Homo sapiens: one gene and its partner. The protein of the gene in region 1 interacts with the protein of each later gene in a pairwise test. Each region holds a gene or a part of one and is shown on either strand. Other genes may lie near its edges.

What was found.
Region 2: the proteins of ZNF26 (region 1) and TRIM39 interact in binary tests that used the Homo sapiens proteins (3 or more experiments, as listed by UniProt).

What each region holds. Positions count from the first base shown.
Region 1 is NC_000012.12:132,988,176-132,993,675, reverse strand, and holds part of ZNF26 (zinc finger protein 26), read right to left. Parts: intron 1-5,500. UniProt on the Homo sapiens protein: May be involved in transcriptional regulation.
Region 2 is NC_000006.12:30,333,427-30,337,830, reverse strand, and holds part of TRIM39 (E3 ubiquitin-protein ligase TRIM39), read right to left. Parts: intron 2,087-4,404; coding exon 1,856-2,086; intron 1-1,855. Other genes in the region: TRIM39-RPP21 protein, read right to left, coding at 1,856-2,086.

The sequences.
Region 1 (5,500 bases):
GAGATCAGCCTGGCCAGTATGGTGAAACCCCGTCTCTACTAAAAATACAAAAATCAGCCGGGCATGGTGGAGTGCACCTGTAGTCCCAGCTACTCGGGAGGCTGAGGCAGAAGAATCACTTGAACCCAACAGGCGGAGGTTGTAGTGAGCCAAGATCACACCACTGCACTCCAGCCTGGACTCCATCTCAAAAAAAAAAATAAAAACAAAAACAAAAACACAGACAGGGCAAGCATCAGAACCAGACATGATAGGGATGTTGAAGGTATCAGACAAAACTTAAAACAACCATGAATAATATGTTATGGGCTCTAGTGAATAAAGTAGGCAGCATGTAAGAACAGATGGGCAGGCCAGGCGTAGTGGCTCACACCTGTAATCCCAGCACTTTGAGAGGCTGAGGTGGGTAGATCACTTGAGGTCAGAAGTTCGAAACCAGCCTAACCAACATACTGAAACTCTGTCTCTACTAAAAATACAAAAATTAGCTAGGCACGGTGGTGCGCACCTGTAGTCCCAGCTACTCAGGAGGCTGAGGCACAAGAATGGCTTGAACCTGAGAGGTAGAGGCTGCAGTGAGCCCAGATCGCACCACTGCACTCCAGCCTGGGCAAGAAAGTGAGACTCCATCTCAAAAAAAAAAAAAAAGAAATACTAGTGATCAAAAACACTGTACAGAAGTGAAGAATGCCTTTGATGGGCTTATGTATTATGTAGACTGCACGAGATTGAGGAAAAAAATCTTTGAACTTAAGGATGTATCAACAGAAACCTTCAAGCAAAGAGAACACTGGGGAAAAAAAAAAAGAACAGAATATCCAAGATGGACAGCCACAAAAGGTGTAGATATGCACAATGGAAATACCCGAAGGAAAGGAAAAGAACAGAAGAAAGACAGTCGGTGCCTGACGCACAGTGGTTTGACTTAGTATTTTTCAATTTTACAATGGCGCAGAAGCAATACACTTCAGTACGTTCCCCAACTTATGATGAGGCTCCATCTGGATAAACCTATTATAAGTTGAACATATTGTAAGTCGAAAATGCACTTCTGACAAAGAGATTTTCAATTTATGATGAGTTTATCAGGATGTAACCACATCATCAAGTCAAGGAGCATCTATATATGAAACAATAATTACTGAAAATTTCGCTGAAGTAATGTCAGACACCAAATCACAGATGGAGGAAAATCCGAGAATACCAAGAAGATAAATGCCAAAAAACCTGCACGTAGGCATATCATTTTTAAAACACAAAAAATCAAAGATAAGCCAGAGATGAAAAAAAATACCTTACCTACAGAAACCACACAAGCAAGAAAATGGAGTGAAACAGTTAAGGTGTTTAGAGAAAAAAAAATCATCAAAACAGAATTCTGTACCCTGCAAAATTATCCTTCAAAAGTAAAAAAAAGTCTTTCTCAAACAAAAACTAAGATAATTTATTGCTATTTCAAGTAAACTTGCCTTAACTAGGCAGAAAAGGAAAATACAGGTCAGAAACACAGATACACTTTTTTTTTTTTGAGATAGGGTCTTACCCTGTTGCCCAGGCTGGAGTGCAGTGGCATGATCTTGGCTCACTGCAACCCCCGCCTCCTGGGTTCAAGCGATTCTCATACCTCAGCCTCCCAAGTAGCCAGGCCTACAGGCACGCACCACCATGCCCAGCTAATTTTTGTATTTGTAGTAGAGACAGGGTTTCACCATGTTGGCCAGGCTGGTCTCGAACTCCTGACCTCAAATGACCCGCCGGCCTCAGCCTCCCAGAGTGCTGGGATTACAGGGATGAGCCGCCAGGCCCGGCCACAGATATATATTTTAAAAAGTGAGAACATCAAAGAAAGAATAAGTGAAAGTAAAATTAAAATTTTTTTTCTGATCATTTTTTTGAGACGGTCTCGCTCTGTTGCCTAAGCTGGAGTACAGTGGCACAGCAGCCTCGAACTCCTGGGCTCACCTCACCATCTCACCTCCCAAGTAGCTGGGGCTACAGGTGCACACTAGCACACCTGGTTTTTTTTTTAGGTTTTTTTTTTTTTTGTTGTTGTTGTTGTTTTGTATAGGCAAGGTCTCTGCGTTGCCCAGGCTGGTCTCAAACTCCTGGCTTCAGTCTCCCAAAGTGCTGGGATTACAGGCATCAGCCACCATGCCTAGCTATTTTTATTTTGTTGTTGTTGTTGAGTCTCGCTCTGTCGCCCGGGCTGGAGTGCAGTGGCACGATCTTGGCTTACTGCAACCTCTGCTTCCTGAGTTCAAGCGATTCTCCTGCCTCAGCCTCCTGAGCAGCTGGGATTACAGGTGTGTGCCACCATGCCCGGCGCTAACTTTTGTATTTTTAGTAGTGACAGGGTTTCACCATGTTGATCAGGCTGGTCTTGAACATCTGACCTCGTGATTCACCCGCCTCGGCCTCCCAAAGTGCTGGGATTACAGGCCTGAGCCACCACGCCCAGCCATGCCTAGCTATTTTTCTTATACTTAGTTGACCTAGTCTGTTCAAAATAGTAATGGAGGCTGGGCACAGTGGCTCATGCCTGTAATCCCAGCACTTTGGGAGGCTGAGGTGGGTGGATCACTTGAGGTCAGGAGTTCGAGACCAGCCTGGCCAACATAGTGAAACCCTGTCTCTACTAAAAACGCAAAAATTAGCCGGGCATGGTGGCACACACCTGTACTTCCAGCTACTCGGGAGGCTGAGGCAGGAGAATCGCTTGAACCTGGGAGGCAGAGGTTGCAGTGAGCCATGATCATGCCACTGCACTCCAGCCTGGGTGACAGAGTGAGACTCTATCAAAAAAATAAAAAGAAAAAAGGACAATAAAGGAACATCATACTATGTACAATTCTACGTCCACACATTTCATGACCTAGATGAAACAGACCAAATCCCTGAAAGACACAATCTGCCAAAACTGAACAAAAAGAAACAGACACTCTAATAAGCCTAAATTGAATCAAAAATTAAGAATCACCCAAACCAGAAAGTGCCAGGCCAAGATGGGTTCACTCACTGGTGAAGTCTACCAAACATTTAAGGAAAAAAATCACACCAATCTTTTTTTCCCTCTACAATATTTTTCAGAAGATAAAGGCAGAGGGAATCCTAACTCAGTCTATAAAGACAGCATCGCTCTAATACCAAAACCAGACAGAAACCCTAGAAAACTACAGAAAAATTATCTCATAAATATAGATACAAAAATCCTCAACAAAATACTAGAAAATAAAATACAACAATGTATAAAAACAAGTGTACACCACAGCCAAGTGGGATTTATTCCTGGTATGTAAGGTTGGTTCAATACTTGAATCAGTTCCATCGTATCAAATGACTAAAGAAGAAAAAGCATAGATAGATGCAGAAAAAACTTTTTTTCTTTTTTGAGACAGGGTCTCGCTCTGTCACCCAGGCTGGAGTGCAGTGGTGCAAACATGGCTCACAGCAGCCTCAACCTCCCAGGCTCAAGCAATCCTTCCACTTCAGCCTCCTCAGTAGCTGAGACTACAGGCATGTGTCACCACGCCCAGCTATTTTGTTTTTTAATTTTTTGTAGAGATGGGGTCTCACTATGTTGCCCAGGCTGGTCCTGAATTCCTAGGCTAAAGCTATCCTCCTGCCTCAGCCTCCCAAAGTGATTACAGGTGTGAGCCACATCTGGCCCAGAAAAAAAATCTGACAAAATCCAACCCCATTCACAATTAACAACAACAAAAACCCTCACTAAACTAGGAACAAGGGTCTTTCTCAACTTGATAGAGAATATCTACCAAGAAAAATGCTACAACTAACATCATACTTAACTGTGAGAAACTTGAAGCTTTCCCACTAAGATCAACAAGGCAAAATGTATCTTTAATCCCCTCTCACCACTCTTTTTCAACATTGTACTGGAAGTCCTATCTGAGGCAAAAAAACAAGAACAGAAAATACAGGATGAGAATCCCTGTTCCAAAAACCTGAAATCTAAATGCTCCAAAATTCAAAACGTTTTGAGTCCTCACACGTGGAAAATCCCACACATTAACTTAATACAACCTTTGTTTCACACACAAAATTATTTAAAATACTGTATAAAATTACCTTCAGGCTGTACGTATAAAGTATATATGAAACATAAACAAATTCTGTGTTTAGACTTGGGTCCCATCCCCAAGATATCTTATGTATATGTAAATAGTCCAAGATCTGAAAAAATCCAAAATCCAAAACAATTCTGGTCTTAAGCATTTTGAATAAAAGATACTTAACCTGTAAAATGTATAATGACTGTGAAGGAAGGAATAAAACTTTGTTCACAGATGGCATAATTGTGCAAAGTCCAAAAGAATTCACCAGACCCGGCACGGTGGCTCATGGCTGTAATCCTAGCACTTTAGGAGGCCGAGGTGGGCTGATCACGAGGTCAGGAGATCGAGACCATCCTGCTAACACAGTGAAACTCCATTTCTACTAAAAATACAAAAAAATTAGATGGGCGTGGTGGCACATGCCTGTAGTACCAGCTACTCAGGAGGCTCAGGCAGGAGAATCGCTTGAACCCAGGAGGTGGAGGTTGCAGTGAGCCGAGATTGTGCCACTGCACTCCAGCCTGGCCAACAGCGAGACTCTGTCTCAAAAAAAAAAAAAAAAAAAAAAAAAAAATTCACCGAAAGACTCCTGGAACTACATGATTATACCAAGGTTGCAGGATACAAAGTTAATATACAAAAGTCAACCCCTTTCCTGTACACAGGTGTAAGCTGAATTTGAAATAAAAAACACAATACCATTTACAGTAGCACCCACAAAAATTAAATACTTAGGTGTAAGTCTAACAAAATATATAATGATACTATATAAAATCTATATGAGAAAAACTACCAAACACTGCTGAATGAAAACTAAGAACTAGATAGAGAGATATAACATGTTCATGGATAGGAAGACTCAATATTCAAGACTTCAGCTCTTCCCAACTTGATCTACAGATTGAATGCACTGTCAGTTAAAATCCCAGCAAGTTATTTTGCAGATGTTGACAAACTGATTATAAAGTTCAGACAGACAAAAGACTTAGATTAGCTAACAGGATACGGAAGCAGAAGAATACATTTGGGAGAATGAACCTGACTTCAAGACTTATAGGCTGGGCATGGTGGCTCACACCTGTTATCCCACCAATGCTTTGGGAGGCCAAGGAGGAAGAAGTGCTTGAGGCCAAGAGTTGCAGGCCAGCCAGGGCAACACAGTGAGACCCTATCTGTACAAAAAAAAAAAAAAATTTTTAATTAGCCTGATGTGGTGGCATATGCCTGTAATCCCAGCTACTCAGGAGGCTGAGGTGGAGGATCCCTTGAGCCCGGGAGTTCGAGGCTGCAGTGAGTTGTGACTGTTCCACTGCACTCCAACCTGGGCAACAGAGTGAGATCCTGCCTTGAAAAAAAAACAAAAGATTTACTATAAAGACCAGCCTGGGCAACATGGCTAAACTCCATCGCTACAAAATATACAAAAA
Region 2 (4,404 bases), on another chromosome or scaffold:
TATTGAAGAAGGTGCTATCCAGGGCTTTCACAGTTCGAGAGAAGTCAATGCCTGGCTTTAAAGCTTCAAAGGACAGGATGACTTTCTTATTAGAAGCAAGGGCAGCTGGTGACTTTAAGTTGAAACCAGTGCTCACTTACCATTTCAAAAATCCTAGGGCTCTTAAGAATTATGCTAAATCTACTTTCCTTGTGCTCTAGAAATGGAATAACAAAGCCTACATGACAGTACACCTGTATACAGCATGGTATACTGAATGTTTTTAATTAAAAAAAATTACCTTTTGTAGAGATGGGGTCCTGCTATATTGCCCAGACTGGTCTTGAATTCCTGGCCTTAAGCAGTCCTCCTGGCTTGATCTCTCAGAGTGCTGGGATTACAGATGTGAGCCAACGTGCCTAGCCTTTACTGAAGTTTTTTTTGGGGGGATGGAGTTTCACTCTTGTCACCCAGGCAGGAGTGCAACTGCATGATCTTGGCTCACTGCAACCTCTGCCTCTCGGGTTCAAGCGATTCTCCTCCCTCAGCCTCCCGAGTAGCTGGGATTACAGGCGCCCACCACCATGCCCAGCTAATTTTTTTGTATTTTTAGTAGAGATTGGGCTTCACCATGTTGGCCAGGCTGGTCTCAAACTCCTGACCTCAGGTGATCCACCTGCCTTGGCCTCCCAAAGTGATAGGATTACAGGTGTAAGCCACCGTGCCCAACCCTTTACTGAAAATTTTAAGTTGAGACCTACTGCTCAGAAAAAAAGATTCCTTTCAAAATATTACTGCTCACTGACAATGCACTTGATCACCCAAAAGTTCTGATAGAGATGTAAAATGAGATTCATGTTGTTTTCACGTCCGCTAACACAACATCCAATCGGCAGCCCATGGATCAAGAAGTAATTTGGACTTTCAAGTCTTAATAAATGTATTTCATAAAGCTGCTATAAATAGTGATTTTTCTGATAGATCTAGGCAAAGTAAATTGAAGGCTTTCTGGTAAGGATTCACCATTCTAGATGCCATTAAGAACATTTGTGATTTGTGAAAGGAAGCCAAAATATCAATATTAACAGGCATTTAGAAGAAGTCTATTCCAACCCTTATGGATGACTTTTAGGGGTTCAAGACTCCCATGTTGTAAGTAACTGCAAATGTGGGTTTTCAAAGATTTTCAAAGAAGTTCTACTGGTGAGTAAAATGCTATTAAACAGCATCACATGCTCAGAGATATCTTTCATAAAAGGAAGAGTTGAAAGTAAACTTCGTCGTTGTCTTATTTTAAGAAATTACCACAGTCACCCCAATCTTCAGCAACCACCACCTCGATCAGTCAATACTAACACAAGACCCTCCACCAGCAAAAATATGATTCCACTAGGAAACCCAACAATTAATGTGACTTGCTTTATCAAGATACTCGCTTTATTGAAGTGGTATGGAACTGAACCCACAATATCTCTGAGGTATGCCTGTATCCTTTAAACTATGTTTCTGTCCTTTTTCAGCAGTACATAAATCAAATTTCAGGACTTAAAAGTAATGGTAACTGCATTTACAAAATTTTTAATGCATAGTTTTTCACTAACTCAGGCTAGACTTCCCTCCTTTCAAAAGAATGAATCTTTTCTTTGGAACAGATTAAGCACATAATTGCTGACCAGAGATAAGAACACAAAAATGGTTAGAAGGGGATGGGAGAAATCACTTTTCCGTAGCAAAGACCCTTTGAGTACACCTGGCAGAAAGAACTGGATTTAGAGAAGGAGAGCAGAAGAATGAGTATCCCAGGCTGACAAATCCCAGGCTACGCAAAGCTACGCTGCACTCAGCCTGAGGGGCTATGCAGGGGCAAAGGTCGAACCTTAAGCATCTCGAAGCCTGACTGTAAGCACTTGCCCTCCACCTCGGCAGCCAAGTGGGCCAGGTCCCGGCGCTTGTCCCCAAGGTGAGCAGCATTTTCTCGGAGTCGCTGCAGAATGTCCTGTTCCTCTTCTTCCAGTCGTGAAAGCAACACCTGCTGCTCTTCATCCAGCCGCCTATGAAGCTCTTCAAACTCCCTCAAGATCTGCTGTCGGCGACTTTCCACTAGTCTCTGAGAAGAGAGGGAAGATGTTGTATCAGCAGGGTCAGTGTGGTATAAGGAAGCCTTTCTCTCACCCACCATATGTATGAATTAACACAGACTTCCAGTTTCATTGAAAATGGTTTAACAAAGGCTGGGTGTGGTGACACATGACTGTAATCCCAGGACTTTGGGAGGCCGAGGGAGGTGGATTGCTTGGGATGAGAAGTTTGAGACCAGCCTAGGTAACATGGTGAAACCCCAACTCTACAAAAAATACAAAAAATTAGCTGAGTCTGGTGGTGCATGCCTGTAGTCCCAGCTACTGGAGAGGCTGAGGTGGGATGATGGCTTGAGCAAAGAAGGCAGAGGTTGGAGTAAGCTGAAATTGTTGCACCATTGCACTCCAGCTTGGGCAACAGATCGAGATGAAAGACAGACAGACAGGAAAGAAAGACAGAAAGACAAAGACAGAAAGAAAAGAAAGAAAGAAAATGAGAGAAAATGGTTTAACAGAACACTCATTTTTTATTCCATTGGAATTTCCTTCTGTAAAGAATGGCTCCATCACTATCACCCCCCTACTGATGACTTGGTAGTGAAGACCACTGCGGATATATATATTTGTTTTAATTTAAGATAAAGAACTCAATAATATGATGACATTAACTATTACAGATATCAGAGATATCTGTGTTATTATCAACTGTAAAGTTCTAGTTAATTCAATCTGTCGAGAAAAGGAAAGTATAGGCTCAGCATGGTGGCTCATGCCTGTAAACTTAGTGCTTAGGAGGCCCAGGTGAGAGGATCACTTGAGGCCAAGACCAACCTAGGAAACATAGTGAGACCTTGTTTCAACTAAAAAGAAAAAAAAATTAGTCGGGCATGGCAATGCACATCTGCAGTCCTAGCTACTCAAAAAGAATCAAGAGGATGGATGGCCTGAACACTGGAGTTTGAGTTAGTGTGCTGTGATCACTACTGCCCTCCAGCCTGGGTGAGTGAGATTCTGTCTCAAAACAAGCAAACAAAAAACAACGAAACAAAAAGGAAAGTACAAATAATAAAAAGTTAAAAATAAGATTGTCATCCTTTGCATATTGCAACACATGCACCAGATAAAAACCAGAGAACTGGGAAAGTGTAAGAATCAGTAAGAGTTATATGGGTTATTATAAAATATACATATGTAGATTTCAGGGCTGAACTTGTTAAATTGTTTCAAGTCACTTCAGAGAACTGGCAATTCCTACCCCAGGAACAGGTTACAGAAGTTTGTTAGTAATTTAGTTTCTTGAAATTTGAAACATGCTTTCTTTAAGCCAGCACACAGACTTAAGCCTCTAACATTCCTGAAATTTGATAATATAGGACTCAAACACCAGCCATAACACTTTCTGAGAATTATCAGCACATCCTCTCTTCTGCATCTCCACTACAACAAATAGTGATCTCCCTAAAGAATTCCCCAAGCATCATGTGACTGATGATGAAGCAAAGTGAGAAGCAGAGACTGGGACTCTAGAAGGAAGTGGATAGGGAATGAAAGGCAGGCTTGAGGGTGGAGAGAGAGTGGGGATGCAAAGCCAGGATGGGCCTGACAAGCGTGGCATTTGTGGATTCAAGCTAGTTCCTGGCAGAGGCTGACTAGCTCTTCTAGTTTAGGGCCACTTGCTGCTTCACTTTCCACCACTGCCTTCTCAGTGTACATCTGAACAAAATATATTCTCACATTTGCCCTCAATAAAACACAGCCTTTGTGTGTGTGTGTTTGCACATGTGTGTGCATGCATGTGTGTTTGTTTAGGTATGGGTGTAAGTTTAACATTCATGACTGTGATAAATAGGAAGCAAAAAGGCCCTTCCTCTTATAAACCGGTAATCTTTTCTCTTTTTTTCACTCTATATTTTAGGGCAGTGGTTCTTGATGAAGCTGTTAACACACTCTGAGGATATTTTGGAAATAGGCACATCTTCTTGTTTTCCATGGTTGGGGAAGTTCCTGACAATGACGCAAGCACTCCTCCAATGTGTGAGACAATCCGGCATAGTGAACTGACCTGCAACATTTTCTAATGTTCTGCTGGATATTCAAAAACACAGGCCTGGGCGGCCAGGCACGGTGGCTCACGCCTGTAATCCCAGCACTTTGGGAGGCCGAGGTGGGCAGATCACAAGGTCAGGAGATCGAGACCATCCTGGATAACACGGTGAAACCCTGTCTCTACTAAAAATAGAAAAAAAAAATCAGCTGGGTGTGGTGGTGGGCGCCTGTAGTCCCAGGTACTTGGGAGGCTGAGGCAGGAGAATGGCATGAACCCGGGAGGCAGAGCTTGCAGTGAGCC